4 linked regions of the Homo sapiens genome follow. The protein of the gene in region 3 interacts with the protein of the main gene of each other region in a pairwise test. Each region holds a gene or a part of one and is shown on either strand. Other genes may lie near its edges. The genes, in order: TULP3, UBE2W, PSTPIP1 and ZNF175.

The links.
Region 1: the proteins of PSTPIP1 (region 3) and TULP3 interact in binary tests that used the Homo sapiens proteins (3 or more experiments, as listed by UniProt).
Region 2: the proteins of PSTPIP1 (region 3) and UBE2W interact in binary tests that used the Homo sapiens proteins (3 or more experiments, as listed by UniProt).
Region 4: the proteins of PSTPIP1 (region 3) and ZNF175 interact in binary tests that used the Homo sapiens proteins (3 or more experiments, as listed by UniProt).

Annotation. Positions count from the first base shown.
Region 1 is NC_000012.12:2,914,386-2,922,185, reverse strand, and holds part of TULP3 (tubby-related protein 3), read right to left. Parts: intron 1,424-7,800; coding exon 1,264-1,423; intron 1-1,263. UniProt on the Homo sapiens protein: Negative regulator of the Shh signaling transduction pathway: recruited to primary cilia via association with the IFT complex A (IFT-A) and is required for recruitment of G protein-coupled receptor GPR161 to cilia, a promoter of PKA-dependent basal repression machinery in Shh signaling.
Region 2 is NC_000008.11:73,819,505-73,827,304, reverse strand, and holds part of UBE2W (ubiquitin-conjugating enzyme E2 W), read left to right. Parts: intron 1-2,055; coding exon 2,056-2,158; intron 2,159-7,800. UniProt on the Homo sapiens protein: Accepts ubiquitin from the E1 complex and catalyzes its covalent attachment to other proteins.
Region 3 is NC_000015.10:77,025,548-77,033,347, reverse strand, and holds part of PSTPIP1 (proline-serine-threonine phosphatase-interacting protein 1), read right to left. Parts: coding exon 7,744-7,800; intron 7,233-7,743; coding exon of another isoform or gene 7,176-7,232; intron 5,549-7,175; exon of another isoform or gene 5,497-5,548; coding exon 5,434-5,496; intron 4,795-5,433; coding exon 4,696-4,794; intron 3,820-4,695; coding exon 3,774-3,819; intron 2,847-3,773; coding exon 2,767-2,846; intron 2,169-2,766; coding exon 2,070-2,168; intron 1,051-2,069; coding exon 954-1,050; coding exon of another isoform or gene 920-953; intron 487-919; coding exon 396-486; intron 1-395. UniProt on the Homo sapiens protein: Involved in regulation of the actin cytoskeleton. May regulate WAS actin-bundling activity. Bridges the interaction between ABL1 and PTPN18 leading to ABL1 dephosphorylation.
Region 4 is NC_000019.10:51,581,132-51,588,931, reverse strand, and holds part of ZNF175 (zinc finger protein 175), read right to left. Parts: intron 7,542-7,800; coding exon 7,415-7,541; intron 7,146-7,414; coding exon 7,050-7,145; intron 2,306-7,049; coding exon 465-2,305; 3' UTR 1-464.

The sequences.
Region 1 (7,800 bases), on a different chromosome or scaffold from region 3:
ATCAGAATTAAGAACTACCAAATCATTTTATCTGCCCTCCTTTCTTAACATCCATAAGAACATTTGTTAAGAGAGAAGGTCAGAACTGGTGTTCTTTTTTTCTGAGACAGGATCTCACTCTGTCACCCAGGCTGGAGAGCAGTGGTGTAATCACAGCTCACTGTAGCCTCGACTTCCTAGGCTCAAACGATCCTCCCACTTCAGTCCCCCGAGTAGCTGGGACTACAGGTGTGTGCTACTACACCTGGCTAATTGTTAATTTTTTTGTAGAGATGGAGTCTTGTTATGTTGCCCAGGCTAGTCTCAAACACCTGGCCTTAAGTGATCTGCCTTTCTGGCCTCCCAAAGTGCTGGGATCACAGGTATAAGCCACCACGCCCAGCCTGGTGTTCATTTTATTAACATGCTCTGTTACTAAAGTCATATGTACTTGTACTTCAGTAACTGAAGTAATATGTACTTCAGAAACTTAAGAATGAGACCAAGAAAACAAAGTAGGTCCTCCATAGTACAGATCCTGTACAAGCCAATAGCTCCAGTGGCTTGATTTAGAGGCACTTACAATCTTATTCTTCCTCCGCCCCTCCCCATCTCAGATGATCCTTTCAACTATCTGTTGGAAGAATGGACGCTCTCTACCTATTCCCGGCTTCATGATTCACCTCTGCCACGATTTAACAATCAAGAGCTCCTCAAATAGGTCATTCTAAACTCATTCATCTGGCATCTAGAAAACAACAGTTCTTGCCGGGCATGGTGGCTCAAGCCTGTAATCCCAGCACTTTGGGAGGCCAAGGCGGGTGGATCACCTGGGTCAGGAGTTCGAGACAAGCCTGGCCAACATAGTAAAACCCCGTCTCTACTAAAAGTATAAAAAAATTAGCCGGGCATGGTGGCAGGCGCCTGTAAACCCAGCTACTCGGGAAGTTGAGGCAGGAGAATCACTTGAACCTGGGAGGAGGAGGTTGGCAGTGAGCCAAGATCGCGCCATTGCACTCCAGCCTGGGCGACAAAAGCAAAACTCCGTCTCAAAAAAAAGAAAACAACAGTTCTAAAATGGACGCAAACCTTAAGGCATCTTCCACTGATTATATCATTGCTTTTATTCTCCTCAAAGACCCCAAATGTGATTATAAAGATTTATGAAGGTACCTAGTAATGGTGCTAATAATATTGTCCCTTTGGTCCGTCTGACAATCCTCGTGCCTTCTAGGTTTGTGAAAATTGTACCCCACTAGGAAGTGATGCTGCCTAAATACACACCATGTAAGATGACATTGCTGTGGGGAGTATGACAGTTCACCAAGGGAGTCTGCTCATCACTGGCCCTTGGCTTTGCCCGACGTAGCCTGGCTTCTGGATTGGGCTGCACCATAAATGGCTCAAGGCGCTTTTTCCTTTGCCTCTTCTCAAGTAGTAGCCTCTGGGAAAAAAGCGATATGACAGCCAGCAAGGAGAGTTTTGACATGACCTAACCATTTCCAACATGCCCAGTTTGTTTTTCACTGATCCTCACAAAACATCTTGTAAATTATTTTTTCCCCATTTAAGAAATGGGAAAACTGAGGCACAGAGAGGAGTAAGGATTCAATCATTTCATTTAACAAATACTTTTGAACACCTAACACCTATAAAGATCTATTTAAAATCAGATGATGCTTTTTTTTTTCTTTTTTTTGAGACAGAGTCTCACTCAGTTGCCCAGGCTGAGTGCAGTGGCACCATCACAGCTCACTGCAGCCTTGACCTCCAAGGCACGCCCAATCCTTCTGCCTCAGCCTCCTGAAGAGCTGGGACTACAGGTGTGTGCTACCATGCCCAGCTATTTTTTGTATTTTTGTAGAGACAGGGTTTCCCGACATTGCCCAGGCTGGTCTCAAACTCCTGAGCTCAAGCAGTCTGCTTGCCTTGGCCTCCCAAAGTGTTGGGATTACAGGCGTGAGCCACTGCACCTGTCCCACACAGTGCATTTGTAACCAAGTCTACTAAAGATGTATGGGAATCATCATAGCATTATCAAATGTGACCACAAGCTCAAAACATACAAACACACATGCACGGAGGACAGATGGAGGAACACAGCAAGGGTGGTTTCTTCAGGTGGCAGACTATGGCATGATTGTTTTCTCTTTTCTAGTCTTTTTTTTTTTTTAAGTTTTCTTACTTTTGTAAATGGAAGAAAAAAACTTTATTATTCTCTAAAACTCAAATTATTTCCATGTTCTAATTAGTCAAAGGGCAGTAAGTTTGGCATTCTTGTTTATCTTATATAATTAGAAATCAAATTTGGATCAAGGGTGAGAAGAAAAAAATGGCAGTTGGAACATATCAAATAGAAAGCAGTCAACTCTATGAATAAAAGCAAGATAAAGACTATGGTAGCAAGAAAAGTCAGGAAACAAGCATGACAGACTATGAGAAAAAAAAACCAATGAAATGGAAAGGAAGGTACTAGCACATAGTACTAGTACCTTTTGGCAAATAAGGGTTTATAATATATAGAAATTATTATTGATCTGGGATAACTCAGAGTAGGAAAAATGTTAAGCCCCATGCTAAAAAATAAAGACATGATTAAAAAACAAATATATTATAACCCACTTACTACTGTTTTTCAGGCAAAAGAAGCCATCTGTTTACTTTTTTCCATCGATACTGTTTTAGAAAAGTGCCTCCAGGAAGAAGAGTCACTCCAAGGGGTGAGACTATCAAAAAAGGAAGTGTGTTTTTCCTGAACTGGGCTGATGAGAGCACACTGATTAATTCAATAGCTTGCATATAGAGGGAAAAGATTGGGGAGTTAAGATAACGTGCCAATACAGAATATACCATCAAGAATGAATAGGTGTTAGAGCAAGGACTAAGTTGTTTGGAGATTATTTTGAGATTTCATGAATTACCATGAATAGAAGGACATTAACCCAGGAACACTAAATACACAGGAGGCTATAATGACTTCCACCAAACAGAATTGGCCACTGAGATTCTTCTAGCAGCCGGGCGCAGTGGCTCACGCCTGTAATCCCAACACTTTGGGAGGCAGAGTCAGGTGGATCACTTGAGGTCAGGAGTTTGAGACCACCCTGGCCAACATGGTGAAACCCCGTCTCTATGAAAAATACAAAAATTGGCCTGCGTCATGGCGCATGCCTGTAATCCCAGCTACTCAGGAGGCTGAGGCAGGAGAATCACTTGAACCCAGGAGGTAGAGGTTGTGGTGAGCTGAGATCATGCCACTACACTCCAGCCTGGGTGACAGAGCAAGACTCGAGACTCTGTCTCAAAAAAAAAAAAAATTCTTCTAGCAACCAAGAGGTCTTGTATAATGGATAAAAAGTAACTTGCTGGCCGGGCACAGTGGCTCATGCCTGTAATCCCAGCACTTTGGGAGGCTGAGGCGGACGGATCACCTGAGGTCGGGAGTTCAAAGCCAGCCTGACCAACATGGAGAAACCCCGTCTCTACTAAAAACACAAAAATTAGCCGGATGTGGCGGCGCATGCCTGTAATCCCAGCTACTCGGAGGCTGAGGCGGGAGAATCGCTTGAGCCTGGGAGGCGGAGGTTGCGGCGAGCTGAGATTATGCCCCTGCACTCCAGCCTGTGCAACAACAGCAAAACTCCATTTCAAAAAAAAAAGTAACTTGCCTGAAAAGGTGGTAAATATGAAGTACTGAAATCATAAGAAACTGCCATATCTTATCTATGTGGCCACAGCTATTTCATCTCATACATAGTCTGTGAAATGATCGATGAAACAAAATCACATACTGTAGGCTGGGCGCGGTGGCTCACGCCTGTAATCCCAGCAGTTTGGGAGGTCGAGGTGGGCGGATTACCTGAGGTCAGGAGTTTGAGACCAGCCGGGCCAACATGGTGAAACCCCGTCTCTATTAAAAAATAAAATTAGCCAGGCGTGGTGGCAAGCGCCTGTAATCCCGGCTACTTGGGAGGCTGAGGCAGGAGAATCACTTGAACCTGGGAGGCAGAGGTTGCCGTGAGCCGAGATTGGACCACTACACTCCAGCCTGGGCGACAGAGCGAGACTGTCTCAAAACAAAAACAAAAACAAAAATGAATGCTGTAGCTATTTTTTGAGACGGAGTTTCACTCTTGCTGCCCAGGCTGGAGTGCAATGGTGCAACCTCAACTCACTTGCAATCTCTGCCTCCTGGGTTCAAGCAATTCTCCTGACTCAGCCTCCGGAGTAGCTAGGATAACAGGCACCTGCCACCACACCCAGCTAATTTTTTTTGTATTTTTAGTAGAGATGGGGTTCACATGCAAGGAAAATATTTTCTTTTTTTTTTGAGACAGAGTCTTGCACTGTCACACAGGCTGGAGTGCAGTGGCGCGATCTCGGCTCACTGCAAGCTCCGCCTCCCGGGTTCACGCCATTCTCCTGCCTCAGCCTCCCGAGGAGCTGGGACTACAGGCGTCCGGCACCGCGCCCGGCTAATTTTTTGTATTTTTAGTAAAGATGAGGTTTCACCGTGTTGGCCAGGATGGTCTCGATCTCCTGACCTCATGATCCGCCCGCCTTGGCCTCCTAAAGTGCTGGGATTACAGGCATGAGCCACCGTACCTGGCCAAGGAAAATATTTTCTATAGAAAAGGAGTTTTCTGCTGTGGTCTAGAAAAGGGAGGCCAAAGAGCTAGAATTTGATAGGGTTATCAGGTTTGTCCAAGAAAGAGAAGTATCTTTTTTTTTTTTTGAGACAGAGTCTCGCTGTGTTGCCCAGGCTGGAGTGCAGTGGTGCGATCTCGGCTCACTGCAACCTCTGCCTCACGGGTTCATGCAATTTTCCTGCCTCAGCCTCCCGAGTAGCGGGGATTACAGGTGCACCCCACCATGCCCAGCTGATTTTTAAACTTTTAGTAGAGATGGAGTTTCACCATGTTGACCAGGCTGGTCTCAAACTCCTGACCTCATTCCCTCTGATTCCTTGCTCACCAATAAGCCTTCTAATTTGAAGTTTAACTTCTTAGGTATCGTATTCCCAGGAAAAGAGTATTATGAACAGTAGACATGAATACACACTGAAAGAGTAGAGCTCCCTTTATAAATTAATAACTTGGGGTTCTGGTTTTAAAACTTACTGGTGTGGGTTTAACTAGCGTGAATTTGTGCCAAAGGACCTGGTTATATCCAGTTCACTGACAAACTAAGCTCTCACTTGTTAAGGGGAGACTAGACCCCTGACCACAGTGTTCCTGCCAAGGTATCTGGGGAAGCCTCTCTCTATCTACTTACAGACAAATCAAACTCATTTAGACCAATGACTTAAGAAAAAAACAACTGTAGACTCAAACTGTAATCAGGGCCACAGCTACTATACCTCAGTATTGAATGATCTTACTACTGTCCAAGTTTACAAATAAGAAAAATACCATTAAACATATATGTGCAAGCTGCCATCTTGGTGAAAACCGTCATGCAGTTTGGATGGGGGAGGAGAGAAGTGCTACTTGTGTTTGAATGTAACAATGTCAATTCCTATTCCATCTATATTTTACTTCCCTGAAAACCTAAAAGTGCTTTAAACGAGGCTACATCAATGAAGGACTCATTACCAAGATAGAGTAAGTCAGGGAGCCAGGAAGAAAGCCAGAGCTGATGGTTAGATGCCCTAAATGCAATTAAAACACACTGCCTTCGTGATTTTAAGTGTCATATAAACTAAAACTTAATCACTTTTAAATTTCCTAATTATCTTGGGAATTGAACTGTAAAAGAATCTATCTTCCCAAGAATTTAGTGGTATGTCTTACTATCCTGCTAAAATATTGAATGGTGATGTCAAAATAAACAGTAAGAAATTAAAGGAGATCAGATAGGTGGAAATTTCCATGAAATAACTTTATCCAATAAAATAATAAAGCTCTGACCGGCGCAGTGGCTCATGCCTGTAATCCCAGCACTTTGGGAGGCTGAGGTGGGCCGATCTCTTGAGGTCAGGAATTCGAGGCCAACATGCCGGAAACCCCATCTCTACTAAAAATGCAAAAATTAGCTGGATGTGGTGGCACAAGCCTGTAAATCCAGCTACTTGGGAGGCTGAGGCAGGAGAATTGCTTGAACCCGGGAGGCAAAGGTTGCAGTGAGCCAAGATCGCGCCATTGCACTCCAGCCTGGGCAACAGAGCAACCATCTCAAAATAAATAAAACTTCATTTAAATTAATGATAGTTTAACTAATTCTCAATTTTCCTAGACAAGGAGTCACCCTAGAGGTGATGGGCTAAGGTTACACTATGACAGTTTTCCAACAGACTGACCAACCACAGAGTACAACCAGCATCAGGCTAGTTGTCTGCAGTCTATCAGTTTGTTTAAAAATCTCGGCCGGGCACGGTGGCTCACGCCTGTAATCGCAGCACTTTGGGAGGCTGAGGCGGGCAGATCACGAGGTCAAAGGATTGAAACCATCCTGGCCAACATGGTGAAATCCCATCTCTACTAAAAATTAAAAAAATTAGCTGGGCGTGGAGGCATGCGCCTGTAGTCCCAGCTACTCAGAAGGCTGAGGGAGGAGAATCGCTTGAACCTGGGAGGTGGAGGTTGCAGTGAGCCTGAGCTGAGATTGCACCACTGCACTCCAGCCTGGCGACAGAACGAGACTCTGTTTCAAAAAAAAAAAACAAAATAAAAAAACTAACTTAATCTCCCCGCCCACAAAGCAAGATCATAGGAAGGTAAGACTAAAATTTTTAAACTAGACTTCTTAAAATATCATTCAGTGCAGTGATGACCTCTCATCATACAAATAGATGAGCAACTTGGCTCAAAGGAACTATGTTGTACTTTAATCCATTTTCATCAGACGAAATAAATGTACTCTACCTAATATGCATCCATGTCAGAAATATCACAGCAAGAATCAGAAAATCCATTCTGGGCTGGGCGCAGTGGCTCACGCCTGTAATCCCAGCATTTTGGGAGGCCGAGATGGGTGGATCACTTGAGGCCAGGAGTTTGAAACCAGCCTGACAAACATGGCAAAACCCTGTCTCTACTAAAAATACAAAAAATTAGCCAGGCATGGTGGCGTCTGCCTGTAGTCCTAGCTACTCGAGAGGCTGAGGCATAAGAATCGCTTGAACCCGAGAGGCAGAGGTTGCAGTGAGCCAAGATCATGCCACTACACTCCAGCCTGGGCAACAGGGCTACACTCTTGTCTCAAAAAAAAGAAAAGAAAAGAAAATCCATTCTGCAGCTTGCTAAGGTGCCCACATACCCTGAAAACGAGTATCTTGCCAGGTATGGTGGCTCACACCTGTAATCCCAGCACTTTGGGAGACCAAGGTGGCTGGATCACTTGAGGCCAGGAGTTCAAGACCAGCCTAGCCAACATGGTGAAACTCCATCTCTACGAAAAATACAAAAATTAGCCAGGCGTGGTGGTGCACTCCTCTAATCCCAGCTACTCTGGAGGCTGAGGCACAAAAATCACGTGAATCTGGGAGGCAGAGGTTGCAGTGAGCCAAGATTGCGCCACTACACTCCAACCTGGGCAACAGAGAAAGACTTCTCCTCAAAAACAAGAAAGAGTATCCTAGTGAAACTGGTAAAAATAAAAGCAAGATATACTCAACAGGAAAGTATTTCGATAAATGGTGTTGGGAAAGCTGAATATCTGAATGAAGCTGAATCTCTGTTTCACGCTATACACAGCAATTAATTCAAACATACAGTTAGACAGAAGAAATATGTTCTAGTGTTCAATAGCACAAGAGGGTGACTATAGTTAAGAATAATTTATTGGCTGGGAGTGGTAGCTCATGCCTGTAATCCCAGCACT
Region 2 (7,800 bases), on a different chromosome or scaffold from region 3:
GAGGCGGAGGTTGCGGTGAGCCGAGATCACGCCATTGCACTCCAGCCTGGGCAACAAGAGCAAAACTCTGTACCAAAAAAAAAAGAAAGTACCACGCACCATGTTGAAAGTTATGCTGCCTTTGACCTCGTGTCAGTATCTGCATGTCATGCAGATATTACAAGGATTGATGAGATACTTGCTTAGCTCTTTATTTTTAAAAGCTGTGCTTGTTTGTATAGGTTACATGTTAATTTATGTTATGTGTCCTAAAATTACCATATAAACAGAATGAAAGACCACCGTTTTTCCTGGGAATATCACTGTGCCTAGTGGATGTGGGTGGAAAAATAAGAAAGGAATTTCGAAGATTAAGAAGGACCTAATATATAAAGAGATAGTTTTTTGTTTTGTATGCAGCTTTTGCATTGCATTTAATTTACCATGTATTGACTGAGTCAGGAATGTGCTAGGTTTTTTACGTATGTAGGGTCATTTATCTTTCCAACAACACTATGAGGTGATTATCTTCTGTTTTATTATTGAGGTAGTTAAAACTGGAGAGATAACATAACTTGTTCACACAATGAGTTAAGATTAACTATAACTGCGACTTCAGTATAACTTCAGTTATAACTGTCTAATTTCACTATAAAATATTGTCTCTTGGGTCTGTGGTCGTATCTTTTATTACCATGTATGGTACTCAGCGTGCATTCTTAAAATGAATAGCCATGCTCTTAAGAGTCTGTATACTGTAGCTGATTTCTTTTAGAGAATAGGTACATTTATTATTTTACATAATCCAAGGTTCATAGTATGCGTGGTGATGACTAGAATCCCAACACTGTATTTTCTATCTTCCTTTTGTTTTCTTGTATTTTAAATACAAGAAAGTTTAATAACTGAAAAGTTCAAGAGAATTGCCCAGGTGTACAAGAATTATAAGTGACAGAGCTATAATTAGGAACACATTGTTAATGACTTCAATTCACTTTTGCTTCTAATGCTGCCCTGTTATCTTTGCTGTCATTATCCCTTATTCTTCCCATCTTAAAGAAAATAACAAGAATAGTATATAAACTGTAAATAACACATTTATGTTTATGATTGTTATATATGAAAACAAAGGCTTGCATAGATGGCATAGAAATGGGCTTTATTAAACAATTGAAACATAGTGAGAGATAAAGGAAAGTCACCACAAAGCCTTGCTTAATCATCAGAGTAAGTGGACTGATGTCAATTTAGCTCCCCTTGCCCTGTTAATCTTCTCTAGGATGTTGATGAAAAAAATAAGTCTGACAGCTACGGTTCTCTGTGGTCATTGTCTATACGTATTTCTCCATGGCTTCCACCAGTAATAATCAGAGGCAGTTGCTTTGTTTGATGTTATGTATAGAATACGTAATATCAGCATTGTAGAAATGGTACTTTGAAAAAATAAGGTAGTATAAATCAATTAGGAGGAGCACAGGCTTTGGTGTCAGTGCACCTTAGTTTGAGGTCTGTTTGTTTGTTTATTTTGAGACAGTCTTGCCCTGTAGCCCAGGCTGGAGTGCAGTGGCATGATCTTGGCTCACTGCAACCTCTGCCTCCCGGGTTCAAGCGATTCTCCTGCCTCAGCCTCCTGAGTAGCTGGGATTACAGGTGCACACCACCATGCCCGGCTAATTTTTGTATTTTTAGTAGAGACCGGTTTCACCATGTTGGTCAGGCTGGTCTTAAACTCCTGACCTCGTGATCTGCCTGTCTTGGCCTCCCAAAGTTCTGGGATTACAGGTGTGAGCCACCACACCCGGCCTTGGGTTTTATTTAGTTTGCTTTTTTAGACCTGGCTCTGTCTTTTGCTAGCTGTCTGACCTTGATCTGGTTATTTCACCGCTGAGTGTCAGAGAAGGGGATAGGTCATGAGAATTAACAGTAAGAGAGTTATTGGGAGGCTGGCATGTGCTGTTACACATAACCAACTCTTGTCCTAGTGCTTAGTGTATAGGAAGTACTTGGTGTCCTCTTTTCTCCTCCTTACCCCAGTCTCTATTATCTTAAGTTTTTAATTTGCCTTTTCTATTCTAGGTGGATTGTAGACATGGAAGGTGCACCAGGTACCTTATATGAAGGGGAAAAATTTCAACTTCTATTTAAATTTAGTAGTCGATATCCTTTTGACTCTCCTCAGGTAATTGCCTTGCTTTAAATTTTTTTTTTTGTATTTTTAGATAGCTAAATGCCAGAGATGTTTGACTCAGTAAAAACATATAAATCAGTTATACGTATGTAGATGGATTTGTTATTTCATTATCTTATTTGTCATATAATCAAGATATGAACATTACACTTTATTGGGATTAGGGCTTTACTGCATTTTGCTTCTAAAATTGTTTCATTTGTTGCTTATCCATAAATGCTAACAGAAAAGGGAATAGAAATCTAACCAGGCCTCTAGGCCAGGGGTCCCCAACCCCCATGCTGTGGACTAGTACTGGTCCATGGCCTGTTAGGAGTCGGGCCACACAGGAGGTGAGCAGCATTACTGCCTGAGCTCTGCCTCCTGTCAGATCAGCGATGGCATTAGATTCTCATAGGAGTACGAGCCTTATTGTGAACTGCACATGTGAGGGATCTAGATAGCACGCTCTTTATGAGAATCTAATGCCTGATGATCTGAGATGGAACAGTTCCATCCCAAAACCATCATCCAATCCCCAACCCCATCCATGGAAAAATTGTCTTCCATCACACCGGTCCCTTGTGTCAAAAAGATTGGGGACCACTGCTCTAGGCCATCGGAGAAGTTGACATTTTGGAATAACTGGAGGCACTTCTCCTAGGTCAGATGGTAGAATCACATGGTGAAGAGAAAAGTTCTCTGTTGGAAGGAGTACTATGATTTTGCATTGACATGCTGTCCTTGCAGCCTTTTAGTACAGGAAGGGCAGAGTACATCATCAGATGTTAAATATCTAAACATCAGCACAAAGTCTGATTATTATAATTTGATGCCCAGTGAGTTTAGTTAATAGCTTAATACTTAGACAAGGGATAATGGTGGTAGAGAAATGTTTTTTGAGAGCTATTTAACTATAGTAAATGATTAATCAGGTTAGAGAAAGGAAGACTCTAGGATGACTTCCAGGTTTCTGGCTTGGTAAGATAAGTAAATGAGTTACTATAATTACTTATTCTTCAGAGAATTATAACAAAGCACTTCATTTTTAAAATTTGAGGCTTGTGAGATCCGTTGGCTAAAATGGTAAGACATGATGCCAGCTCTCTCTAGTATTGCTAGCAAATGAGCTATTCTGGAAAATACAACCAAATACCTGAAATATTTCCCAGATACTGAAAATTTTGCTTGTTGGGTGCTGAAATGTACTATTTGGAGGAAAATCATATTTCATTGTCACTTTAAACAATATACCAAACACAGCTTAATCTTTTCTTAGTTATGTAAGAGAAGAGATAAAGTCAGTTATTGTATCATGCTATAAGTAAAGAGATAATTGTTTTAAAGCATAGATTTAAATGGATACTGACTCCTTAAGTTCTAAAATTTTCATATGAGCAGAAAACTACCAAGACTTTTAGGACTTATTTTTATCATTTTCATAAAAGTTAAAGTGAAAGGGTATGTGCTATTGTGACCTCTAGATGTCTACAATAAGCATTTGTAGACTATAATAAAAAGAACAAACATCTTCTCTCCAGAAGATTGTCATCACTTTTGTTGCTTTCTGGCTGGCCAGCATCATTTCTGACTGTAAATGTGTGGAGACAACAGGATCTCAGTCTGTTTTCATCATCAGCCTATTTGTCTACCTTCAACTAAGTTCAATGATGGTATGGGAAGGAAGAATATTTCACACCAATTCAAAAGCTTTTGACTAGGGAGATATTGGGGGAAGGCTTACTCTGGGAGCTTACAGATTTTTCACCAGAGGAAAATAATATTTCTGTAAGCATGAAACCAAGTCAAAAATGTGTTCTCTAAACTCTTTCCTTAATATTTAATTCTAAATCAAATATCAAACTTAAACATTATGTTGAATTTCTTCTTTAATATTTCTGTAAGTTACAGCATTTGTAATAAATTCTCCCTATTGTCCTATTTCAAATTCATTTTATCCTCCTTCCCTGATTTTATTTGTCTGTTCTTCTAACATTGGTGTTATCCAGGTTCTTTATTCAGCACTGTGTTACTCTTCTCACTCTTCTTTCACCTTCAGTCACCTTAAGCAGCTAACTCCCAGATCTACAGCTCTGGGAACACTTCTTTTTTTAAGGCTTAATTTCACACCCTTGTTGAAATACTTGAGTACCTCCAGACATCTCAAATTTAACACAACTAAACTTGATCTTTCCAATAACAAAGAACATTTTGTTTTTCTTTATCCTGGGTTACTGTCCACCTGTCTATTTTTGTGCTCAGTTTTTCTCTTTTCCACACTCCTCCCTCCTACATTTGAAAGGTAGCCCATTCTTTTCTTAATGTCAGTGCTGTAGTCTGGTTTTTTGTTTGTTTGTTTTTGTTTTGTTTTTTTTGAGACAGCGTCTCGCTTTGTCACCCAGGTTGGAGTGCAGTGGTGCAATCTTGGCTCACTGCAACTGCTGCCACCTGGGCTCAAGTGATCCTACCATATCAGCCTCCGAAGCAGCTGGGACTACAGGTGCATGCCACCACACCCAGCTAATTTTTTTTTTTTTTTTTTTTTTTTTTTTTTTTGCAGTTGCAAGATTTAATAGAGTGAAAACAGAGCTCCCATACAAAGGGAGGGGACCCAAAGGGGGTTGCTGTTGCCAGCTCGAATGTCTGGGTTTATTTCCTGATCGTTGTCCCTCCCTCTGTGCTCTCAGGCAACAGATGATTGGCTATTTCTTTACCTCCTGTTTTTGCCTAATTAGCATTTTAGTGAGCTCTCTTTACTATCTGATTGGTCAGGTGTGAGCTAAGTTGCAAGCCCTGTGTTTAAAGGTGGAAGCGGTCACCTTCCCAGCTAGGCTTAGGGATTCTTTGTCGGCCTAGGAAATCCAGCTAGTCCTGTCTCTCAGTGCCCCCTCTCAACAGGAAAACCCAAGTGCTGTTGGGGAGGTTGGCCGACAACCACTCTAACTGCTTCCCGCTGAATTGGGACGTAGTAGGGGTTGTGCAGTTGAGATTTCCTCAGGAGGGGTGCCTTCAATGTCATTAACATTGGAGCATGGGCTAGCAGGCCGGTCCAGGGGTCTGTGGTAGATTTTAGTCATGGACTGTCTGGGGCTCCATTTGAAGAACGATTTGTAGTTTTACAGCTTCAATTCTGGAAGAGACAAACTTAACAAGGAGGTTAAAGATAGAGGGATTGAAATGTATGGCCTGCAGTGCAGGGGATTATTTCTTTGGCACACTTTACAGGCCTTGACTATCTGCTTGATAGTTTTGAAAAGGTCTGGTCCAGTAAATAATGATTTGGCCATCTGATGGCACACCCAGCTAATTTTTATATTTTTTGTAGAGATGGGGTCTTGCCATGTTGCCCAGACTAGTCTCGAGCTCCTGGGCTCAAGCGATCAGCCCACCTCCTTGGCCTCCCAAAGTGCTGGGATTACATGTGTGAGCCACCATGCCTGGCCTAGTCCAGGTTTTTATCTTTTATTTGAACCATTACAGTAGCCTTTAGTTCTTTGAATTCCTACATCCTTTCACGGTGCCAATAGATTTGTTTGAAGGCACAGTTATCTCACTGGTTACATACCACACACATGGACATGCACACACATCCCCCCCCCCCCACACACACACTCCCACACCCCACTCCACCCCCCCACCACACACACACTCTGTCTCACTCCACCATCCCCAGAATTCCTCACCCCCTGACAGTAAAACCTCTTAATGTTTATTTCCTATGGAATCAAGTTTTTAGCCTGGCATTCAAGTCCCTGTATAGTCACATCCAAACTTAACTTTTTCTGCACCTGCATGCATTCTGTATGGTAATATTTCTATATAGTACTTCATAATTTAACTTCCATTCTGATTTTGTTTTCTAACATCTTTTAATGAAGTGGTTAGGGGAGGTAGATTCATCCTCATTTTATATGTGAAGAAATTGAAACTTGTAGAAGTGAAGTGCCTTGTTCACGTTTTAATACCTAGTTTATAGGACAGTCAAGACCCAAACCCAAGTCTTTCCTTTCCTCCTTTGCCATACTGCCAATTAGATGCGAGTACCGGTGTGGAAAAAATGCCTATTTATCTATGTAGTAATTTTCTCTCTGAAAGTGAAAGATTATATGTGGAATGAATGGTACCTTTGAAAGCTCTAGGTCAGTTATTCTCACTCTTTTTGAAATATAAGGATTCCTTTTTTAATTTACTTTTTGGTGGGGTGGGGGTGCGGAGACAGAGTCTCCCTTTGTCATCTACCTATGCTGTGGTGTAATCATAGCTCACTGCAGCCTCCAACTCCTGGGCTCAAGTGATCCTTCCACCTCAGCCTCCAGAGTAGCAGGGACTACAGCCATCTGCCGCCATGCCTGGCTTGGTTTTTTTATTTTGTTTTTTTGTTTGTTTGTTTGTTTGTTTGTTTGTTTTTTATTTTTTTGAGACAGAGTCTCGCTCTGTTGCCCAGGCTGGAGTGCAGTGGTGTGATCTCTGCTCACTGCAACCTCTGCCTCCTGGGCTTAAACCATTCTCCCACCTCAGCCTCTCTGAGTAGCTGCAACTACAGGTATGCACCACCATGCCTGGCTTATTTTTTTTTGTATTTTTGGTAGAAACAAGGTTTCACCATGTTGGTCCAGCTGGTCTTGAACTCCTGTCCTAAAGTGATCTGCTCGCCTCGGCCTGTCAAAGTACTGGGATCATAGGCACGCCCAGTGAGGATTCCTTTTTAATATCAGTTAATTCTGTAGTCCCTCACATGGCATAGAGGTTGTATATTCTAATATCCATTGATTGGGAAAATGGCAGAACTACTCTGAGGCCAGTAATACGTTAAAATTTTTTAAAATGTATTTATACATAATCTATATAGTTTTAACATAATTATAATGGGTCAAACATCAATGCTTGATGTGCTTATAGACTTCAAGATTTTTCCAATAACTGAAACTTTGCAGAGATCCACTGCCCTGGGAAAGTGGCTAGAACCAGTCCTCTAGGGCAGTAAAATTCCCCCAAAATTTTATTTGATGAAACTCTGTAGCATTAGCACTTGTTACCTAAATTAGTCTTTCATCTTTCTGGCTGGGCATGGTACTCATGCCTGTAATCCAAGCACTTTGAGAGGCCAAGGCAGCCCAGGAGTTTTGGGACCAGCCTGGGCAACGTAGGGCAACCCCATCTCTAATAAAAAAAAGAAAGAAAAGTCTTTCATCTTTCTATGCAATGAACAGTACTGAGTTTATCACTAGTTACAAGAGTAGAATTTGGAAAATATTTCTAGAATAGATGAATCTCATTGTGAAATTACTGCTTTTGTACCTGTAAATGAGATCAGTAAGACTGTCACACACCATTATGGTTTGTTGTGTTTTTCTTCCTGCCAGTTATATTTTATGTCTCATGTTGTGTCCTGCCTTATAATGAAAAAGTTACCTCTCTAAAATATGTTTGGCTCAGTCATTTGCCTTAAAAGAAAGAATAACAACAAACAATTTGTCTGTTAATATGGAAACAGAGATGAGGCATCTTTTCATCACTGCTTGCCGCTAATGTACACTTACTGTCAGCCATACAGAAAATAGCTTTCTATGTACATATTCTGCTTTTTTATGCTAGGATACAGGTAAATGGTTGGTTAATTCAACATGTATTGGGCATGAATTATGTATCAAATA
Region 3 (7,800 bases):
GGGAAGGAGCCCTGGAAAAGCCTGGAGAATTCTCCAGATGCCCCAGTCCTGCTCCAGCCAGACAGCGTTGCCACTGCAGCCTGACAGGGCACCAGGCTCACATGAGGCCCCAGGGACAAGGAAGCCAGCATAGGGGCCTCCCCAGAGCTCGGAGCACCTCCCCTAGTGAATAATTGGGGTGTGATTATTCTAGTGTCTGGGTCCCTTGGGCTGAGGGTTCCATAGGCTGAACTGAGCCTATCTTGTCTCCACAGAGTGCCCAGCACCTAAACTGGGCACCAGATACAGACACATAGTAGGTGCTCAGTGAACGAGGAAGGGCCAGGTGCAGAGGAGGGGCTCGACCCACTTCCTGGCCCAGCCTTAGGCCCTCCCTCCGTCTGTCGGGGCCTCACCTCTTTATCATGCCGCAGGACGGCTGTATGCCAGGGCTGCTGGTCAGCGGGGTGACCTCCCGATCGTAATAGTTCTGGTAGGGCACCGGAGCTGCAGACAGCAAGCCGTGAGCCCCAGGGCGGCCCCCAACACCCCATTCTGGCCCTGCCAGACTCAGCTGGGGCCCTACATTCCCAATCTGGCCCTGGCCCATCCTGGTGCCTGAGGAGGTGCCTGTCTTGCTCCCATGAGAGACCCCACCGTAGGTACCATCAAGACCTAATATTCTGGACCCGTGATCCAGTGGAACCAAACAGGCGGGGAGTGGGGGCCGTGGGAGCTCCTCACCTCAATCCCCATCCCCACCTCTTCCTCTGAGTGCCATCATGCCCTTAGCTTTGCCTGAGAGGAGGCAGCAGGCCTGGGACCCAACTCCCCACAACCCCTGCTAGGGCTTCTCTGCCCTGAAGGGAGCTGTGAGCTACCCCAGCCCGGTCCTGGCACTTGAGGCTCAGGGCCGGGCCTTCCCAGGGGCTCAATGCACCTAGAGGCTGCGCTGTCCGCAAGCCGGACCTCACCGGGGGGCTCTGTGCCCGTGCTCTTGGCCTGGATGAAACTGTCGATGTCGGCGTCTATGCTGCAGCCTTCCAGCGTCAGCCGCACTTCCTCGTAGAGCTGGGGCAGGAAAGAGCAGAGGCCGCAGCCCGATGCCCACTCTGCCCCTCTGTGGGCCTGAACTCTGACCAGCGGCCCCCACCCACCGGCCTCCTCACAGGCCATTGTGCGCGGCTCGGGGTCTTTGATCCTGAGGGGTCACGGCCCTGGCTGACAGCTTCCTGTTTCCTGAACACCTTCTGTGTGCAAGGCCCTGTGCAAGGGACTTAACTCACACCTGTCCTCTAAGGTAGACCCCACTTTTCCCATTGGATAGATGAGGAAACTCAGAGGAGAGTGACTTGCCCAAGGTCACAGCGAGAATGCAGCACAGCCAGGCCTTGGGGCTAGGAGAGTGGGTCCAGAGCTCGCCCTTCTACCTCAAGGAGGCGAGGAGGCAGCAGGGGGCTCGAGTCACTTGGGCAAAAACAACAAGAAAATCAACCCCCACAGCCCCGGACAGGAGCGTCAGGCAGGAAACACAGCAGGCAAGGGGGCCAGGGCTGCCCGGGAGAGCCGTGTGCTGGGCTGCATCCATCCACAGAGCTCAGGGACCCTGGCTGGGGGCCCTCTCTGCTGGGGAGGACCCACCCAGCAGGTTGGGCTCAGTAAGGGGAACCAGGACACCCTGGAGATGTGGGGAGCAGAGGAAGGACTGCGCCTCGGCTCCTGCAAGCACCAGGCCTAGAGCAGAGCAGCCACGGTCCTCCAGCTTCTGCCAACCTCTGACAGCTGTGTCCACCTCCCCTCCCATCCCCGGCAGAGGGGGCAGGTGCTCTGTGGCTCTGAGGCATAAGGAGGAAGTCAGGGGAACCACAGAGTCATCATCTTCCAGGCAGAGAAGCCATGGCCCTGTGTGGTACTGAGCTCCTGTCTTGGGGTTCTGGGGGCAAAGGCTGAGCTGCTGAGGCCTGAGACCCCTGGGGCCAGGCTTGGATCACAGAGGACCAGGTGCTTGTTGACCGGCTCAGATGGACCTGGGTGCTTTGCTGCCTAGAGGCTGCCCTACCTTACCCCACACCAAGGCCCTCAGCCCCCACCTCATCATCCTTGACACACTGCATGGAGAGCTGGTTGCTGTGCACCCACAGGGCGTTGCGGAGAATGGTCAGCCGGTCAAACTCTTGCAGCTGAAAGGCCTGGGGGCAGTGGGAGGGAGGTGAGCAGTGAGGAGGCGGCTGCAGGGCCCGGCCAGGCTGGGCCCCATTCACAGCTCAGCCGGAGCTGACCAGGCCAGCCCTCTCTGCTGGAAGCCCAGTCCAAAGGAGAGAGTGCCCTGGGGTCCCCATCCCGACTCCGGGCCAGCCCTGAGGCTGCAGGGAGGGAGGTGGAGATGCCCAGGGGGTCCCTGCCCCAGCCTCCCTTCAGGCTGCACCACACCGAGGCAGAAGGGTAGTGAGAGGGACCTCGGACGGGAGTCCTGAGCCCTGTTCCCCAGGCCCTGTCCATCGGCAGCACCCAGAGAGGCTGTGGGTTTAGTCCAAGTCCCAGTTTTGGCTTCAACAAAGAGGGTGGAAGAATGCCTGCCTGCAACGAAGGGGCCCAGGACTCAAGGCCAGGCGACAAGCAACAGGGCCAGGGCCCAGCACAGGCCTGTGAGCAGGAGGCTGAATAAACGAGTGAGTAACAGGTACCTTCCCCAACTGCCTCACTTGGGCCCCTTTAAGCAGCTGGAGTAGGGATGGGCGTCTCACACTTCCCAGCTGGGGAAAACGAGGCTCCACGTGGGCCACTCACCTCACAGGTGGTCCGGTGCTCCTGCTCCCACTCAGCCCGGACCTTCTCCAGCTGCGCAATGCTCTGCCTGTATACCCGCTCTGAAAGCGCAGGCAGCCTCAGGGAGGGCCCTGACACGAGCTCCTCCACCCCTGTACTCCAGCAGGTCCCATCCTGGATGCCTCCTCCCACTGGGAGCCCCGCCTCCCCCATGGGACCTGCCCTAGCAGATGGCGGGGCCTCATCTGAATGCCCGTCAGGGCCACCCACGCTGGTGCTGCTGCTGCTCCCCAACTGTGCTCTGAGCTGCCTGAGGGCTGGAGTGGAGCCTCATATATGCAAGTCCAGAGTATTGGCCTCTGGGCATCTCTGGGCGCCCCACCTCACTTTCCAGAGGGGAAACTGAGGTTCAGAGAAGGCAGCTGAGAGGGCGCTGGAGGAGGGGTGGAGTCCCACAGGCTTGGGTCACAACTTCTGTGCCCAGATCTCTGGAGGTCACCTGTCCCCCAGCCGAGGGAGTAGCTGAGTCCCAGTAAAGGCAGAGCAGAAGGGAGAGGCCTTCCCAGGGGAAGGGAGGAGGGTGGGTGCTGTGTCTGGTGGGTGGGGCACCAGCAGGGACAAGAGTGTTGGTAGGATTCGGGCATCAAGTGAAGGACAGAGGCCCAGAGAAGGCTATGTGCACAAGTCCTGGGCTCTGAAGCCCGATGGCCTGGGTTCAAATGCAGCTGTAACCTGGGGCAAGTACTGGACCTTTTAGTGCCTCTGTTTCCTCATCTGTTAAGAAAGGGAACAGTAACAGCAGCCACCTCGGAGGGCAGCTGTGAGGACTGAACACATGAAGCGCCAAGAAGGGCTGGCGAATGGGGGAACACAGCGTTTACTTTGACGGCACATATCTGGAATGAGAGCGCCGCGCCCATGATTGTGCAGCCAGGGGGAGTGTGTGTGTCCCCAGGGTGAGGAGGTGTGTGTGGGGAGTACCGCCCAGGCCTCCGCCCTGGTCGGACGGGGCAGCCAGGCCCACATACCTGCCTCGGTGGCCGAGTCCTTGCACTGCCTGGCTTTGTTCTGACTCTGAGGAAACAGAGGGGAAGCAGCGCTAAGCCCCTGCCCCAGGAGCCAGGGCCCACCCCAGCAGACCTGAAGTGACTGTCAAGCTTCCCCGGCCACCCTGGGGGGAACATTCAGGAGCCAACTATGGGCAGATGCCATCATCCACAAGCAACCTCCGCCCACAGAGGACCACAGGCTAGCTCCATGGAAAGAGAACGAAGACAGGAACCGAGCCCAGGAGGATGCCTGTGAAGAGTGAGACCACAACCCACAGGAGAGGTGCAACTACTGCTGAGCCCCCTGGCTGGGACTTGGGCTCTGGCCCCTGACTGACTGCCCCCAGCTCACCCTCAGGCCACTTCCCTCTCTGGGCCTCAGCCTTCCTGTCTGTGCAATGAGTGATGTGTTTCCTGGGCTCTGGGAGCTCTGATACCCCCACTCTGGCCTAGGGGCCACAGCATCAGGAGCATGGGCTCTAGACCACCTGAGTTGGGGGTCCCTTTTCTGCTGCTTCCTGGCTCTGAGACCTTAGACAAGTCACTTACTGTGAGCCTCAGTTTCCTCTCTGTGACATGGGCCTACTGAGCCCTTCTCCAAGGTTGTGTGAGGGTTGGCGTCTGCTCTCATCACCCTGTGGGCCTCAGTGGGCCTGCACCGAGGAATGGGTCCCTGAGTGCCGCCTGACGGTGGCAAAGGGGATCCAGCTGACCTGCCTGTCCATGGCCTGAGGTTCTCTCCAGGAAACCCATTTCACAGATGGGGAGATTGGGGGTCAGAGAGGGCTAAGCAGCATCCCCAGATGCAGATCTTGCCTGGGGGTGTCTACGGCACCCCTTCCTTGCCTCCCCCACTGCCCCCAGCCCTGGGCGACCCACACGGCCCAGCAGCCCAGCGCACCTTCTCCACCTGCTTCTGGTGGCCGTTGGCGCTAATGCGCTCGAAGGCCTGCTCCGCGTCGTCCGCGTCCCGGCACTTCTGCTCGTATGTCTTCTTGGACTGGGGGTGTGGAGGGGCGTGACTTGGGGGCTGCACAGCCCTGTTCTGTGGTCCCCGGGAGTGAGGCTCCCTTAGCCCAGCCTCCCTTTTTCCCTGGCGAGGGTTGCGGGTGGAGTGGGGGCATCCTCACCAGGGACAGGGATCTGGGGGTCCGGAAGGAGATAGAGAAGGCGTGGGGGCTGCTGGTAGTCCTGCTCTCAGGCCCTCCCCACTGAGGACAGCGCGGCCTGCCCCGGGCCCCGCCTCCTGGGCTGTGCTCTTCGGCGAGGGCACGCCCCTCGCCACGCCCCTCGCCACGCCGCGCCCTCTTAGGAGCCCCTCTCCCTTCCTGTCCAGCGTCTCGCAGGATCAAGCTCAGGGGTCCCTCCTCCCTCCACCCCTGGAGTCCCCAGCTGACTTCATCTGCCCTTCATTCACGAGCCCCACAAGGGAAGGGCCCGGGACCATCCCCACGGGGCCATAGCGCCCAGCACGGGCCCAAGCGCCCCGCAGGCTGGTGCGCCCAAGGCCGAGGTCCGAGGACCAAGGCTGAGGTCAGCCTGTTCCAAATGCCCTGCCCGGGGCCACAGCCCAGGATCGCACCCTGAGACCTGCGCTGCTCCTCGAGGGAAGGCCGCGGCCCCAGGCCCTGGCGCTCACCTCCATGGCCTTCTTGTAGAGCGACAGCTTGCTCTTCTGGACCCGGTCCATGACGGCCTCATACTGCAGGGGACACGAGGTTCTGAGCCGAGGGCCGCGGCCTCGGGAGGCTCCCCTAGGCCAAGAGGACGGAGTGTCCCTGGGATGAGGCGCAGCACCTCTCCTGGCTCTGGAGAGAGGGTGACAGGCTGCCCTCCCTCCCCCAGAGCCTGCTGCTTCACAGTGACCCTCACAATGGAAGGCCACAGAGAATCACAGGGCATGGGTGTGCCGTGAGGTCCTTGCTGCAGACCTTGGCCAGAGCTTCGTCTCCAGCTGGGGAGTTCCCACCCCAACACACGTGCGCACACAGTCGTTCATCCTGCATCCCTGAGCCTCTGCAGGCATCACAGTCGCTCACACGTGTGTGTACACTCTGGCACACACATACATGCAGAGTTCCACATTAACTCGGAGGCACACAGGCCCCATCCCTAGCTGCCCACACGCATGATCACAGGCATTCCTGTGCACACCCACAGATGCCACTCACAAGTACACACTCCCACAGTCACCCACACACAACCACAGGCCACATGCAGGCACAGTGGCCACTGGGCCCCTGTGCCGAGGTCTGGGGCCAAAGCCTCCCCTCACCTCCCAGGCTTCCTGTTCTGATAGAGAAGGCAAAACAGCCAGGACAGCGACTGGGTTATGAGGTAGGAGGAGAACTGAGCCAGTTTGTGCCTGGGGTCTCAGGGGAGGGGTTCTGTGCCAGCTGGGAGACCAGCGAGGCACAGGCACTCACACACACACAGCACAAAACACCCAAGTGCACAGGGCTGGACAAGGACACATGCTCACAGGCATATGCAGGGGAGCGTAGGCACGTGTGCACCATCCTGTAAGCACATGTCCTTGCTCTGTGGCACACGCACATACACACACAGGCTCAGACACACATGGCACACACTACAACACAGCGCTCTGCCTGCGGGGCCCTGGCCACTTGGAGAAAGAATGCTCTGTCCAAAACAGCCTTTGCAGCCAGTGCAGCTCCTCTGGCCACAGGAGGGCCCAAAATAGCAGGGCCGGGGTCCCTCCTTCCTGGCAGGTTCTCTGCAGGCTCTGCGGGCACGTCCCAGCTCAGAGAGGGTGCCTGCTCCGGCACCTCAAGCCTGGGCTGGCTTCTGGGGACCCCCTGTCTGCTCAGAACCCCACATTTAGAATCCTGAAAGCCCAGCTGGCAGATGGGCAGGTGGCACGGGCAGCCACGCTACATTTCTGCCAGCAGAGCTGCTAACCAGAGCTGGAGCCCTGTCTGTGGAGACTGAGGGGCGCATGGCTTGGGCTGAGCTCCCAGCACTTGGGAGGTAGACATATGTGTCCCATCCTGTGAGAGGGAAACTGAGGCACAGAGATGGGAAGTGGTATGGCCAGGACACCCAGGCCTAGCCTGGCCCCAGCCTCAGGTACAGCTTCTTCCCCTTCAAGGCTCAGTTGTGACTTTTCATTTTCAATTCTTTGGCCACTTCACAACGATCCTTCCTCCCCAGGCAAGAAGCGGATCTGTGTGCTGCCCTGCCACCCTGTGCAGGGCACCACCCTCATCACTAAGGCCCTGAGAGGCTCAGCCCCCATCCTCACAGGCCCAAGCCCAGCCTCCAGGCCAGTCTGCGTCCTGCCTGCCCTCCAGGGAACCTATATCCAACTTCAGCCCTGCAGCCTCCCTGACAAGCATCTGCCAGCCTCTGCTTACACACCTCCCATGATGGGGACTTCACTTCCATGCAGTCACTCTGTCTCGGGACAGCCATGCCCTACATATGGGTGAGAAGTACCTTTGGATGCTAAGCAATGCCATACAACTCTCCCACCCCAGTCTGTGTCTGACCCCTCAGCCTTGGGCAGTCCTGTGGGGTGACTGGCTGCAAGTCTGCCTTTTTCCAGGACAATCAGCCCTGATCCTTGGACTCAAGACCAGTTTCCAGTGACCCCCACAACTCAGACTGCCTCCTCTGGACACTGCCAAGTTGCCACAGACCCTCTAGAGTCTGCTGTAGTAGGATCCTCCTAGGCGTGAGGCAGCTCGACAGGAAGGACCTTCCATGGGGCTCTGGGACTAAGAGTTGGCCTTAGTGCCAGCGGCCAGGCCTCTGCCCTCCCTACCCACTTCAGATCACCCTCAAGCCCCAAAGCCTGGAGTGCTGTCCCACCACCACCCCTGCCGCCCTCCACTGGCTCTACCAGGAAGGTCAGCCCCCTACCCCCACAGCAACTGAGAGGCTGGCAATGGGGGAGCAGCTCCCCCGCCCCCTGCACCTGCCTCACCTTCTTCCTCTGCTCCTTCTGCCTCTCACGAAACTCCTCGAGACTCCGCAGCTCCTC
Region 4 (7,800 bases), on a different chromosome or scaffold from region 3:
GCTTATATACATAAGGCGCACACACACACATAAAATATTGTCCTATCATGACTGTGTTGGCACTTTAAAAATATTGATATCCCACAATAAACAGGGTTATCATTGATATAATTTCCCACATATTTTACTATAAATAATCGAGTAACAACCTGTCTTGTACCATTCTTTACAGAAAGGCTTTTCTCAATGCGTTAGTCAGGGTTTCTTCCCGGGGAGAAAATTTATAATCCTTAATGAGGCCAGTACTCAGAAGGACATTTCTGCTTACTCTTTTCTCTGTAATTGCCCTCACTAAAATAAAGCATGACTTTTTTATCATGTGTTCACACATGCAGTGCATCCCTAGAGTTTTTCTGAAGCATGAATTCAATAACATATAATTAGACCTGATTCTGAGAAGATTTTCTCTTCTTCAAGAAACTCGGAGTATATTTCATTTATGAATATGCTGATGCACTAGGAATTCATTGCTTGGTAAAGCCTTTCACAGAATAACTGCATTTGTAAGATTTGTCTCTGGTATGAGTTGTTTGGTGTTTATTGAAGTTTGACCTGTTGTTGAAGGCCTTTCCACATTCAGAACACACATAAGGTCTTTCTCCCGTGTGAATTCGCTGATGCACCTTGAGTTGTGGTTTCTTACTGAACGATTTCCCACAGTCAAGGCATTCATAGGGTTTCTCTCCCATGTGAGTTCTTTGATGGGTAATCAACTCTGATTTCTGGACAAAAGCCTTCCCACATTTGTAACAGACAAAAGGCCTCTCTCTAGTGTGAGTTATTTGATGTTTATGGAAATTTGACCTGCCGTTGAAGGCCTTCCCACATTCAGTGCACACATAGGGTTTCTCACCCGTGTGAATTCGCTGATGCTCTTTGAATTGAGACTTAGAAGTGAAGGCTTTCCCACATTCACTGCATTTGTAAGGCTTCTCTCCGGTGTGAATTCTCTGATGCATGCTGAGTATTGACTTCTGGTTGAAGGCTTTCCCGCATTCACTGCATACATGGTGTCTTTCTCCAGTATGAATTTTCTGGTGTATATTCAGGTGTGACTTTTGGGTGAAGGTTTTTCCACAGTCACTGCATTCATAAGGTTTCTCCCCTGTATGAATTCGATGATGTATATCAAGCTGTGACTTGGAAATGAAGGATTTCCCACAGTTGTGGCACTGATAAGGTTTTTCTCCTGTGTGGCTTCTTTGATGGACAATCAGGTGTGCCTTCTGGATGAAGGCCTGCCCGCATTCGATACACACATAGGACTTCTGCCCTGAGTGGATTCTCTGGTGCAAGCTGAGTGTTGACTTCTGGGTAAAGGCTTTCCCACATTCACTGCATGCATACTGTCTCTCACCAGTATGAATTTTCTGATGTATAATGAGGGTTGAGTTTTGGGAGAAGCCTTTGCCACATTCACTGCATTCATAGAGTTTTTCTCTACTGTGAGTTCTCTGATGTCTGAAGAGAGATAACATCTGGAAAAAGGCTTTTCCACAGTCATGGCATTTATAGGGCTTCTTTCTAGTGTGTGTTTTCTGGTGCGTAAGCAATTCTGATCTCTGAATAAAGACCTTCCCACATTCCTTGCATATACAGGGTATATCACCTGTATGATCTGTCAGATATACACTGAGTTTTAGTTGTGGCATGAAGGCTTTTCCACATTTGCCACATTCATGGAGGTTTCCTACACTATGAATTCTCTGTTGGGCAAAGAGGTGTGACTTCTGGGTGAAGCTCCCCCCACATTCAGAACATCCATCTGGTTTCTTCTGAGTATGAATTTGATGTTGCTTGAGTGACTGTTTATGGCCACAGACTTTTCTACACTGGTTACCTTTGCAAAATGTCTCTCCTGTATGAATATTCTTGCTGCAGGCATCAGAAGAGCTATGGCTGAATAGCTGACCAGACCCAACAACGTCATCAAGCTGTTCTGTGTCATTGCTTTCATTCTGACCGTTCACTTCTAGGTTCAGCTTCAAACTTTCTGTAAATAAGCAACATTTCTGAGGTTGTTTCTGTGAAGAAGCAAGGTGGGGCCTCGTGCGAATCATTTTCCCAGGGTCCTTATATTCACAATTGCTTTCTGTGTTCAATGTTTTCTTGTTGAAGAAAGCACTGTGACTCATGGGTTGAATTTGATTTTGCTCATCTTTCTTTGTGCGGTCAGCATCCAGCCTCAGTTCTTCTAAAATGGAACACCATGAACCATCTCTTGTGAACTCACCTACCATATCCTTTTGAAATGAAGCTTTCTTAGAAATCTCCTTTTGTGGGATTTCAAGCCCAAACTCCCTTTCTAAAAGGAGAAAGAGAAGATGAAATAGACACAATGAACAAGAAAGAGGAGAAACTGCATGAAGCTGATTGACACAGAACACAAGGAAATTGCTGAGTCATGTAATAATGCTGCTAATGATGCTGACAATGAGCAGAAACACAGAGCCCTTATTACATGATGAGCATTTATCTACATAGCACTTAGCATGTGCCAGGCAGTGGCCTACATGGTGCACACATACTCATTTAATCTGCATAATAACCTCAGGAGGTAGCGATGATGGGTGTTCCTGTTTTACAAAGAAAAGGAAGCACATAATGGTTATGTAATTGGCCAAGATCACTTTGCTAATCTGTGGGGATTAGATTTCAACAACCTGAGGACACTTATGCAAGTGGTCTAGACACCCAGATCTAGTAGGATGAGTAGGATAAAACAGACAAGTGTTGCAGGGCAACATGTGTGGGCAGCCAAGGCTTGAAGGAGGGGGCTCAGTGTGTAGGTCTTCATTAACTTTCAGAGATGAATCCTCACCAATCTGCCTGCTTTATCTTACTTGTTAGAAACAATGCCAAGTCCATCAGCCCTGTATATCCTTCTGAAAACTATTAAAGCTTCACCTATCTTGACATGGCCAACCAGTGAAAGAATGACTATGCCTCAACTCTCCTATGCCTCAACTCTCCATGAAGCTACAATTTTTTTTTCTTGAACTTAGGAATATACCCATATCCCCAGAAATATATTCTAAAAGACTGGACAAGCAAGCTGTTCCCCAGAATTTGTTTCACCCTTGTTCCATTGAAATTAATTGTTCTTTGTTAGAACTTTTGGCTTTATGCTATCAAATATGCCTTTTTTAGTTTAGTTTTTTGTTTTGTTTTGTTTTTTTGCCAAGAATAAGAGTCCCTGATCATCCTGTGCACTTTACTAGTATACTGCACAAAACACAGCAGGTTCTCAATAAAAATAATAGTTACTAAATTTTACTATTACTTTTTCTACCAGATTTTAATACTGAGTATGAACATCACATGTAGTTTCTTTTCGCTTTCAGTCACTTAAACTGTATCCCAGACTCTTGTCCTATCAAAAAAACTCAATCATCTTTCATTCTTTTTTTAAAAAAAGGACACTTTTAATCTTTATTGTTAACTTTTTCTTATTGTAGCAAAAGTGCATAATATTACATTTACCATCTTGCCCATTTTGTATTGTACAGTTCAGTAGTGCTACCTGTATTCACCCTGTTGTGCAATGGATCTCCAAAACTTTTACATCTTGCAAAACTGAAATGCTGTATCCATTAAACAATTTCCCTTTTCCCCCATCCCTCATTCTCTGGCAGCCACAATCTTATTCTGTCTCTATGAATTGACTACTTAAAGTACCTCATACAGGTAGAATGATACATTTGGATTTTTTGTGTCTGGCTTATTCACTTAGCATCATGATAAGATTCATCCGCACTGCAACATGTTTCATAATTCCTCTTCCTTTTTAAGGCTGAATAATATTTCATTGTATGTATAGACCACATTTTGTTTACCAATTCATTGGTCAATGGACAATTCCACTTTTTGGATATTGTGAATAGTGCTGCTATGAACAAGAGTGTACAAACAGCTGTTTGGGTCCTTGCTTTCAATTCTTGTGGGTATCTACCCAGAAGTGGAGTTGCTGGATCATATGGTAATTTTATGTTTAATTTTTGAGAAATCATCATCCTGTTTTCCATAGGACTACACCATTTTACATTCCCACTAGTAATACACAAGGATTCCAGTTTCTCTATATCCTTGCCAACACTTGTTATTCTGTTTTTTTAATTGTAGCCATTCTAATGGATGTAAAGGGATATCACCCAGTGGTTTTGATTTGCATTTCCCACATAATTAGTGAAGTTGAGCATTTTTTCCTATTATTGGCCACTTGTATATCATCTTTGAAGACATGTCTATTCACATCCTTTTCCCACTTATTAAAATAGGTTGTTTTCTATTTCATTTTTCACTCTTAAATAGCAATTTTACCCATATACAGGTGGTCATTTATTCTGGCAATCTTCCACTGTGTCCCCAGGCAGCGATCTGAAACATTTTTAACTTCTCACTTTATTCAGGTCATAAAAATCTTGCTGAACCTGGTAACACTTAAATTACTGCCCAAAATGTTCAATGTAAACTATCAGAACTGTACTGAAAAGCTTTTCCACAACTCTCCAACACAGCCTAACAATGTCGATTGCAAAAAAGAAGTCCAATTTATTCTCAAATCCAAGCACACTCTCATGTCCTCTATTCCCATTAAGCTTGCTTCATCTGCTTCTTTGTTTCAATTCAAAATGGCTTCTTGAACCAGTTATAGGTACTATGCCCTTAAAATTAATTCCCAATGTCACTCCACCTCTAGGCTGACATCATTTTTCTGAACTTCACCAGCATTTGCTATCCATGCTTCCCATGTTGATACACTTACTTTTTGAGTAGCCTTCCATGAAATAGACATGATTGATGCACAAAGGCTAATACTTTTAACATTTAATGCCATTGTCCTCTCCATCCAAATACAATCTCCGTTCTTTTGAATTTATCTCAGCAAATATTTAAAGCATCCTTTTAAAATACTGTGAAATATTCTTTTCTGCCCATTTTCAGAAAATCAGTAATTTCTGTATCCTAAATACAAAAATCCTAATCCTATATCTTAAATACAATGGTTTCCTCATGCTAAACATTGATATAATGAAGATTAAGAAAGTACAAAGTAATCAGCAGAGTGTATGCAAAGTGAATCATTCTATGGAGTAGACATTAAACAACATACAAAAACAATGGAGCAGAGCATGAGTGATGAAAACTATTCAGGTATATTTTTAAATTGGAAATATGTGGCCATGAGGACAATATCACTGAAAAGAATTTGTTAATCCTACACAGTAGGAAATAGAACTGCCTGTTTTTATCATATCTACTGAGGAAAAAAGAAACAAAATAGCCATGTTTGGGGTCATAAAATCTGTCAGTATCTTGACTAAACTCAAAAACCTGAAATCAACATATCTCACTGGGAACAAAATTGTCTAAATATGAGAAAATGGGGATCTAGTTTGTTGTAATACCACTGGGATTAAGAAAAAGGGTCACTTTTTTCTTAATTAAAACAAGAAAAACTGGTAAGAATTCCAAAGTAATAAATTAAATTAGAGGACTGTGTTTCTGAGCCCAGAAACAGAAAAATCTCACAAAATTTATCAGGTGAGAATTCCTTATTTGGATGATGATGATTCCAATTTCTGATCTCCCAAAATTAAGGAAGTGAGTCATCTCATGGGAACTGTCCTCCGTGGAGCTAAGTAAGGTAGCAGAACACAGTTTAAGCACAGGGACTAGAGGTACTGATATATAAATCATTAGAATAAAAATATGAGGACTAAGAGTTCAGAATGGATGGGTCCTTTAAGTCAATTCCTGTGGGAAAAGATGCCCATAGCCGGGCACGGTGGCTCACGCCTGTAATCTCAGCACTTTGGGAGGCCAAGCCAGGCGGAACACCTGAGGTCGGGAGTTCGAGACCAGCCTGACCAACAAGGAGAAACCCCGTCTCTACTAGAAATACAAAATTAGCCGGGCATGGTGGTGCATGCCTGTAATCACAGCTACTTGGGAGGCTGAGGCAGGAGAATCACTCAAACCTGGGAGGCGGAGGTTGCGGTGAGCCAAGATCGTGCCATTGCACTCCAGCCTGGGCAACAAGAGTGAAACTCTGCCTCAAAAAAAAGAAAAGATGCCCATATGGAAGAACAGGGCCCCAAGCTAGAGGTGCCACAACTGGGAGGAAAAGAAGACAGCAGATCCAGCAAAGAAAAGAAAATAAATAAAATTAGGGGCAAAAAAACTGGAAAAAAAAGGCAGAAAACTCCATGGACGTAAAGAGATAAGCGGTAAGAAAATGCAACAAACAAATGAAAAAGCCAATCAGATAACAGATAAGATGAGAGGCTCTCACCATTCAGTTATTAGAAAAATAACACTTAAGCAATGAAACAGGCTGGGTGCGGTGGCTCACGCCTATAATTCCAGCACTTTGGGAGGCCGAGGTGGGCAGATCACAAGGTCAGGAGATCGAGACCATCCTGGCTAACAGGGTGAAACCCTGTCTCTACTAAAAATACAAAAAATTAGCCGAGTGTGGTGGCGGGTGCCTGTAGTCCCAGCTACTCGGGAGGCTGAGGCAGGAGAATCACTTGAACCCAGGAGGCAGAGGTTGCAGTAAGCCAAGATCGTGCCACTGCACCCTAGCCTAGGTGACAGAGTGAGACTCTGTCTCAAAAAAACCAAAACCAAAAACAAAAAAAAATGAAACAGCCCTTTCACCTATCAGTAGGGCTATAAATTCACCAATTTTGTTAATGCCAAGTGTTAGCAAGCAAGATGTGCAAATGCAAATCCTTGTGCACTGCACATGGGGAGTGTGAACTGGTGCAGCCCATCAGAAGAGCAATATGGTTGATTTAGTCAAGTATACTTATCTCCAGGACCAGGCAATCCCATTCCTGAGTATTCACCAATGGAAAATTCTTAAGGCAGCCCCTATAGGACATTTAACATTTATAGCACATTTACAGTGTTTGATGGGAAACTGGGAGTAGGAGGCAATCTACGGGCCATCACTGGGGGAATGGAGGGAATAGAAAAGTATGGTAGACTGGTAATGGTTCCCTGCAAAGATATCTACATTTGCCCGGGTACAACTTACTCACCTTGACACCTCTGATGTGAGACTTCAGCCTCCTCCACACGCGGCTCCTTTTCTTTTAGCATTCTGAAGATGACCTCTGGGTTGGGAATGTGATACCCTGTTAATTAGAAAGGATACTGGATTTGGGTGTAGCTTCTTCAGTTTTAGAGGCCATTCAATGAAGCTTTACACTGGCTCATTAGAAAAGTCAACATTTTCCACTGGGCACAAAATAATACTAGAAGGTGCCCAAAAGAAACAAACAATCCAGGACAAACCGATAAAAGAGTCATGACATACTTTGATATCCCACTGCGTTCTGCAATGAGGAGGAAGGAAATCTCCTCAACAGGATCCAGCCAAGATTCCCAGGTCAGTTGTGCTCACCCACTGCGAAGAGATGGCTATAGAGCTCCAGCATCACATCCCGGTACAGGCATCTCTGGGCAGGGTCCAGTTGCTGCCACTCCTCCCTGCTGAAGTCCACGGTCACGTCCTCAAATGACACTGATGCCTGTAACAGTGTACCCCAGCTCACTGTGAATTAGGTCATCATTGGCGAGTGGGGATGGCACATATAGGAGGAACATGCTTTTAATGATTTTCACCACGATCCATCACAGAGGCTTCCCACCAAACACCTATTTCACATTTTTAGGGATTTAAAAAAAAATAAGAGAAATATCCTCCATCCACTGTACACCTACATTCATTCATTCATTTTTTTTTTTCAAAAATGAGGCCAGAAATGGGTTCCCTCTAAGTCCTTTAGC